Homo sapiens: one gene and its partner. The protein of the gene in region 1 purifies or fractionates together with the protein of each later gene. This does not show direct contact. Each region holds a gene or a part of one and is shown in the gene's direction. Other genes may lie near its edges. The genes, in order: ANGPTL3 and ANGPTL8.

Region 1 (4,184 bases):
CACTACCTGTTTGCCCAGCACTGTTCTAAGTGCTCTACATGTATTATTGTTAAATTATCATAACACTATGAATTATGTACTATAATTACCCCAGCTTTACAGATGAGGAGACTAATCCATGGGGAGGTTAAGTAACTTGTCCAAGGCCAGACAGCTAGAGCCGGCTTTTGGACCCACACCACAGTCTGACTCCAGCACCCATATTCTTAACAATTTCACCATATTAATATGTCAAGATTAAGCAGTTTTAAAGGATGCTATTTTCTCACAAATTTCTTAATATGAACACTCAATAAGAATAATCACTAATATAAGCATTTAGTATTTTTTTAACACTAAGTTGGAAGCATAGTGGAACATTTATTTTTAGAAATATTATTAATTGGCTGGGCTCACGCTTGTAATCGGCTGGGCTCATGCCTGTAAATTTTGGGAGGCCAAGGTAAAAGAATTGCTTGAGCCCAGTATTTCCAGACCAGCATGGGCAATACATTAAGACATCATCTTTAAAAAAAAAATGTTATTAATCTCCTCTTTTTGTTAAATGTATATTATCAAAATTGTTACTAAGCTAACAAACTTCAGAAAAACTTATGATGGGCAAGCTGCTTGTGACATTGAAGGTATTTAAGATTCAATTCTAGTTTGGTCCTAGATGACCACATATCCATTGTTCCTTCAACGAGCACATGGTAAAGAGCCTAGAACACAGAGACACAGAACACAGTGGAGAAAAGGGAGTGAAATGTCTTTAATGACACTTACTATATATGGGATTTTGTGACAATATACAAGGATGGTTAAGACATATAAGGTGATGCAAAAAAACATATTAACAATTATAGTGACAAAAAATGAGGAGCATATAATTATACATTGATTTATACAGAGTACCAGAGGAACACAGCATTGAGAGCCGTAACACCACCTGAGGGAGTGGAGAAAGGCTTCAGAGAGAAAGTGTTTTTTGGAATGGATCACTGTTTCCAAAAGAACTAAAGTACAGTTTGAGAAATGCATACTTAATTCATTACTTTTTTCCCCTCAACTTTAATAATAAATTTACCCAACAAAAAAGTTTATTTTTGACTTGTAAATCTCTTAAAATCATAAAAAAGTAAAATTAGCTTTTAAAAACAGGTAGTCACCATAGCATTGAATGTGTAGTTTATAATACAGCAAAGTTAAATACAATTTCAAATTACCTATTAAGTTAGTTGCTCATTTCTTTGATTTCATTTAGCATTGATCTAACTCAATGTGGAAGAAGGTTACATTCGTGCAAGTTAACACGGCTTAATGATTAACTATGTTCACCTACCAACCTTACCTTTTCTGGGCAAATATTGGTATATATAGAGTTAAGAAGTCTAGGTCTGCTTCCAGAAGAAAACAGTTCCACGTTGCTTGAAATTGAAAATCAAGATAAAAATGTTCACAATTAAGCTCCTTCTTTTTATTGTTCCTCTAGTTATTTCCTCCAGAATTGATCAAGACAATTCATCATTTGATTCTCTATCTCCAGAGCCAAAATCAAGATTTGCTATGTTAGACGATGTAAAAATTTTAGCCAATGGCCTCCTTCAGTTGGGACATGGTCTTAAAGACTTTGTCCATAAGACGAAGGGCCAAATTAATGACATATTTCAAAAACTCAACATATTTGATCAGTCTTTTTATGATCTATCGCTGCAAACCAGTGAAATCAAAGAAGAAGAAAAGGAACTGAGAAGAACTACATATAAACTACAAGTCAAAAATGAAGAGGTAAAGAATATGTCACTTGAACTCAACTCAAAACTTGAAAGCCTCCTAGAAGAAAAAATTCTACTTCAACAAAAAGTGAAATATTTAGAAGAGCAACTAACTAACTTAATTCAAAATCAACCTGAAACTCCAGAACACCCAGAAGTAACTTCACTTAAAGTAAGTAGAAAATAAAGAGGGTTCATGTTTATGTTTTCAATGTGGATCTTTTAAAAAAAATATTTCTAAGGCATGCCATTTGAAATACTTTGTTGCATTGTTGAAATACTTTTTTTTCCAAGAAAAATAATCTCCAGAAAATAAAATTTCCTATTATAATTTCAAGTTAGTTTTTTGTTTCCCTAATGTTATATATGAAAACACTGAAAATTTGCATTTTATATGAAAATTACAAATCGGTTAAATTATACAATCTAGAACACTATGTCATTACACTATTGTAAATTACTGAAGGTAAGTAAAAAGTTAAAAAAAATTTAAAACTATTCTCCAGTGTTTAAAACAGATTAAATAATACAGTAAATGGAAAAGATTTATTCATATGAAAATATGCTGGGCTTTTTCTTTTAATTGAAGTTCAGAAAATCAAATTTTAGAGATAGTACAATTTAAATAAAATGTTAAGGACAAAAATATGTGCTATTTGAAAGAAGCATACAAGGGGAAGGAATTGCCAATATTCATTTTTCAAATCCATTATTAGTTTAAAAATTTAGATTATGATAGTGTTACAGGAAATTAATAGAAAAGAAAGAGGAAAGCAACTTATAACCAACCTACTCTCTATATCCAGACTTTTGTAGAAAAACAAGATAATAGCATCAAAGACCTTCTCCAGACCGTGGAAGACCAATATAAACAATTAAACCAACAGCATAGTCAAATAAAAGAAATAGAAAATCAGGTAAGTCAGTATTTTAATGGTATGTCCCATCTTTCACACAGGTCTGTAAAAACACTGAATCCTAAAATTATTTACAAGCTTTAACTGGATCATGAGTAAAATTATCACATCAGCATAACTGTTAAAATTGCAGGCTCTGAAGCTAATAAACTACCTGCATTTAAACCATGGCTCTAAAACTTTGTGTGACCTTGAATAAATTACTTCACCCCTTTATCTCTCAGTTTCCTCACATATACTACAAAGATAATAACAGAACTTATAGGATTATTGTAAGAAAAAAAATTAATTCATAGCAGCCAATGTCATCTTACTAAAATTCAAATTAGATCATGTTTCTCTTTGCTCAAAACCACACAATAGCTTTCCATTTCACTCATATTGGCTCTTTAGACCAAGATTACCCAACCCTTCGTCATCTCACTGACTTCACCTCCTCTACTCTAGTTATTCTGACCGCTTTACCAGTATTCAAACACATCAAACATACTGCCACCTCAAAGCCTTTGCCCTTGTTGTTTCCTCTAACTGGAACGCTCTTCTGCCCTGGTATCTACGTGGCCCACTCTCTGATTTCCCTTAGGGTCGTTATCAAACAAAAAATTCCCAATGAAGACTTACAAGGTCACTTAACCAAAAATCACAACCGCCTGGTCCCATCCCTGAAAACTTCTACTTCCTTAGCTACTTTTCTCCTGCACACTCACCTTTATTTAACATAACATAAATTTTAGTTATTTATCTCTTCTATTCCTGCACTAAAATGTAAGCTCTGTGAATACAGGGATTTTTTCCATTATCTTCATATTTTCCATTATTTGTATATACTCCAGAATATAGAATACTGTATGGCACACAGTAGGCATTTCTGTTGAATTAATAAATGTAATGTCATATTCACACAGAAGCGTGTGCTATGATTATTATTACTTGGATTACTAGAAATAGTGTGCCTCATAATTAAAGGTCAACATTCAACAATGTAATTAATCTACAATGTAAACATCTGGTGAAGTGACAGAGGGAAGCACTTGTTTAGAAAAAAGCTATGTCAGAATCCATGTATTCTAATATGCAGTACAATAGTTTAAAAATATTAATAATACTCTCAAACAGCTATTCAAGAGGATTCAAAAAACATAATATAAACTCAGAGAAACTGGTAAACAAAATCATTTTCAAGAGATATAAAACAAATATTATTACCAATTTCCACTAAACAAACATAATGTTAGTAGTGCTGCTAAAAGGTTTTTTATCAACTACTTTTGGTTTCCATACTTTCCTTCTTATGATGTTATTATTCTAAATTCTTTTCAATTATATCTTTTACTATGATTAAATGAACCTGCTCCCCAAAGCAAAATGTTACTATAGTAATATACATTGTGTCTAAAAATAAAAATGTGTGAAGAAACCAAAACAATGAATTTCTGAGTTGGAAGAAGAGTTAGATCATTTAACTTTCTCATATTTAAATTAAAAAAACAAAACTCTAAAAATTTAAGTAACT
Region 2 (3,972 bases), on another chromosome or scaffold:
TGAGAGGTAATACAGGTATCAGTCAGGAGATAGGACAGAGGGCAGAGGGTGGGGGACAAGCGAGCACCCTAAAAACACAGATTGGGAACAGTGTGGTAGAGGGTGGGAATACAGAAGGACATTGGAGGCACTCATGGGGCACAGTGACACACAGAAGGCAGAGAATAGCGAGGCACTCAGGGCCAGAGTTCCAAGGTACCTCAGGTGGCCAGTGGTCAAGCCTAAGCCCCACCCAAGGGCCTGACTGCCCTTCCCCCAGGAGGTCACTAGAGTTATGTGGCCTGTTTCTCAGGTGGGGAAACTGAGGCCAGAGTCCGAGTCCTGCCTCCTTCCCCCAGGGGCAACTCTGTGCAAGCCTTGACCCCTCTCTGGGCCTCAGTTTCCCTATGTGTATAATGGGCACTTCAGGCCTTCCAGCTGAGCCTTTGTAATGATACTGATGATGATAAATAACAACAATGACAATAATTGCACCAAACACTATTACTACAACAATGAAATAATCGCGCCTACTGTGTGCCAGGCTCTGTTCTAAGCACTCAACATGAAATAACTCATTTACTTCTCACAAGTAGCTCATGAGGCAGGACTAACATCACCGCCATTTTACAAGCAGGGAAACTGAGGTACTTGCACAATCACCCACGGAGTAAAATGGCAGTCAGTGGTGATCTGGGCATATGCAGGTCTTGGAGATCAGGCTGTGTGACCTTGGGAGAGTCTCTGCCACCTGCACCTGCCCCCTTGGATACTAACCAGGCCAATAAAAGCCCCCACGTGGCAAGTATGTGGGAGGGGAACAAGAGCAGATATTGTAATGGCAGGTCAAACAGCTCAGGGCAAACCATCAATGCTTATAAAATCTTTACTGTTATTACCATCATCATTGCGATGCCTATTCATAGATGGAGAAACAGGCTCAGCATGGTGAGTCTCAGGAACTCCCAGCAGGGTCTGGGGCCCGTCCTCTCCCAATGCCCCCCACCCACACCTGGCCCTGAGCCCCAGGAAGCGTGATCCCGGCGTGGCCTAGCCGGACATTCGCCTGATGCAACTATCGCACCACTGCCAGGCCCTTGTGCAATGCGGGGCACCAGGTCGGCCAGTTAACGATTGACTGGGGATCAGTGGGGGTATGAGGCATAAAAGGCTTCAGTGACAGTGCTGTGGCTATACCTTAGACCCTCAGTCATGCCAGTGCCTGCTCTGTGCCTGCTCTGGGCCCTGGCAATGGTGACCCGGCCTGCCTCAGCGGCCCCCATGGGCGGCCCAGAACTGGCACAGCATGAGGAGCTGACCCTGCTCTTCCATGGGACCCTGCAGCTGGGCCAGGCCCTCAACGGTGTGTACAGGACCACGGAGGGACGGCTGACAAAGGCCAGGAACAGCCTGGGTCTCTATGGCCGCACAATAGAACTCCTGGGGCAGGAGGTCAGCCGGGGCCGGGATGCAGCCCAGGAACTTCGGGCAAGCCTGTTGGAGACTCAGGTGGGCACCGTAGCTGCGACACTGTGGGGTGGCCAGGAGTCCAAAGAGGAGTTCGTGTCTAGGGTAACCAACCATCCTGGTTTGCCCAGGACTGAAGGGATTCCTGGGATACAAGATTTTCAGCGATAAACTCAGGCAAGTCCTTAGGTACACAAAGATGAGTTGGACATCCTACTAGTGACCCACTGTTTATTAAGCAGATGGAGGAGGATATTCTGCAGCTGCAGGCAGAGGCCACAGCTGAGGTGCTGGGGGAGGTGGCCCAGGCACAGAAGGTGCTACGGGACAGCGTGCAGCGGCTAGAAGTCCAGCTGAGGAGCGCCTGGCTGGGCCCTGCCTACCGAGAATTTGAGGTCTTAAAGGTAAGGAGCTCCCCCAACCCTAGTGGGCTGAGACCCTGATTTCCGGCCAGAACTCGCTTCTGCACCTTGAGTCCCAAAGACCTCCCAGATCAGCCTCCCAGCTCTGTGGCCTCTACCCTGCATGTCCCCAGACAAAACTCAAGTCCTTTTGTGTGCCTCAGTTTCCCTTTTGTGTGCCTCAGTTGCAAATAAGGGCAACACCTGATATCTCACAGTAGGGCCAGGTACTCAATGCAGGTAAAATATTCAGCATGGGGCGGGCACACAGTTGGTGCTCAATAAATTCTTTTTTTTTTTTTTTTTGAGACAGAGTCTCACTGTTGCCCAGGCTGGAGTGCAGTGGTGTGATCTTGGCTCACTGCAACCTCCACCTCCTAGGTTCAAGTGATTCTCCTGCCTCAGCCTCCTGAGTAGCTGGAATTACAGGTGCACCAGCTAATTTTTGTATTTTTTAGTAGAGATGGGATTTCACCATGTTGGCCAGGCTGGTCTCGAACTCCTGACCTCAAGGGATCTGCCTGCCTCGGTTTCCCAAAGTGCTGGGATTACAGGTGTGAGCCACTACACCTGGCCAATAAATTCTTACTACTAGAGAAACTGGTAACATTTTGTGAGCACCCAGTAAGTACCCAGCACTGTTCTATGCCCTTTAATAATCCATATGATGGCCGGGCATGGTGGCTCATGCCTGTAATCCCAGCACTTTGGGTAGCTAAGGTGGGTGGAACACTTAAGGTCAGGAGTTCGAGACCACCCTGGCCAACATGGTGAAACCCCGTCTCTACTAAAAATACAAAAAATTAGCTGGGCGTGGTGGCACATGCCTGTAGTCCCAGCTACTCAGGAGGCTTAGGTAGGAGAATCGCTTGAACCTGGGAGGTGGAGGTTGCAGTGAGCTGAGATCGTGTCATTGCACTCAGCCTGGGTGACAGAGAGAGACTCAAAAAAAAAAAAAAATCCATAGGATGTTCATCACCTCCCCATGAAGTGAGTCCTATTTTATCCCCATTTTACAGATGGGGAAACTGAGGCCAAAGAGCATTGTTGACTTGCTGGGTCACACAGATACAATGAGGGGCTGGGGCAGAGGGTCAGGGGATGGGAGGTGAGGTGGCTGTCGGCTGAGGTTTCCATTCTGACCCCCACAGGCTCACGCTGACAAGCAGAGCCACATCCTATGGGCCCTCACAGGCCACGTGCAGCGGCAGAGGCGGGAGATGGTGGCACAGCAGCATCGGCTGCGACAGATCCAGGAGAGGTGAGCCTGGCAGGGGTTTGGCAGGCAGGGCAGTTGGATGGGGGGCGCACAGGGCAGCTGGAAAGGGGCCCCCTCACCTGGGCTGAGCCACATCTCCCTCCCCAGACTCCACACAGCGGCGCTCCCAGCCTGAATCTGCCTGGATGGAACTGAGGACCAATCATGCTGCAAGGAACACTTCCACGCCCCGTGAGGCCCCTGTGCAGGGAGGAGCTGCCTGTTCACTGGGATCAGCCAGGGCGCCGGGCCCCACTTCTGAGCACAGAGCAGAGACAGACGCAGGCGGGGACAAAGGCAGAGGATGTAGCCCCATTGGGGAGGGGTGGAGGAAGGACATGTACCCTTTCATGCCTACACACCCCTCATTAAAGCAGAGTCGTGGCATCTCACCCAGGGTGTCTGTGTGTGTCCTTGGCTTAGGGAGACCCCACCCAGCATGATGTATGAATACCTCCCATTCAAGTGCCCAGCTGGGCCCCAGAGGCCGTACCTGTAGCTGGTATGGGGGGCATAGACTTCGCGGGCGGGGAACTCCAGAATCTCCTTGGTGGGCCGGCCCCTGGGGTCCGGGTAGGGCTTGATATGAAGCAGCTCAGGGGAGAGGCAGAAGTGGGGATTTTCAGGAGCCGGAGAAATGTCGATCTTGAGCTGGGCTGGGAAGGGAAGAACCGGTTTGCACCTGCCTGGGAGCCTCCTGGCTCAGCCCACCCTTTCTGGGCTGTGTAGTCAGGGCAGACTCTCCCATGATGTTCTCTGGGGACTGGGGGCTGTGTCCCTCAGGCGCCAAGGCCAGAAATTGCCCTCAACTCTGCTGTCTGTCACCCTAAATTTTTTTTCGTTTTTGTTTTTCTTTTTTTTAAGTGG

Evidence for each region.
Region 2: the proteins of ANGPTL3 (region 1) and ANGPTL8 purify together in Homo sapiens (co-immunoprecipitation; one study listed by IntAct). This does not show direct contact.

The regions. Positions count from the first base shown.
Region 1 is NC_000001.11:62,596,136-62,600,319, forward strand, and holds the start of ANGPTL3 (angiopoietin-related protein 3 preproprotein), read left to right. Parts: upstream 1-1,384; 5' UTR 1,385-1,431; coding exon 1,432-1,926; intron 1,927-2,560; coding exon 2,561-2,671; intron 2,672-4,184. UniProt on the Homo sapiens protein: Acts in part as a hepatokine that is involved in regulation of lipid and glucose metabolism. Proposed to play a role in the trafficking of energy substrates to either storage or oxidative tissues in response to food intake.
Region 2 is NC_000019.10:11,238,447-11,242,418, forward strand, and holds ANGPTL8 (angiopoietin-like protein 8 precursor), read left to right. Parts: upstream 1-1,172; 5' UTR 1,173-1,191; coding exon 1,192-1,488; intron 1,489-1,688; coding exon 1,689-1,850; intron 1,851-2,998; coding exon 2,999-3,108; intron 3,109-3,213; coding exon 3,214-3,241; 3' UTR 3,242-3,497; downstream 3,498-3,972. Other genes in the region: DOCK6 (dedicator of cytokinesis protein 6), read right to left, coding at 3,599-3,761. UniProt on the Homo sapiens protein: Hormone that acts as a blood lipid regulator by regulating serum triglyceride levels. May be involved in the metabolic transition between fasting and refeeding: required to direct fatty acids to adipose tissue for storage in the fed state.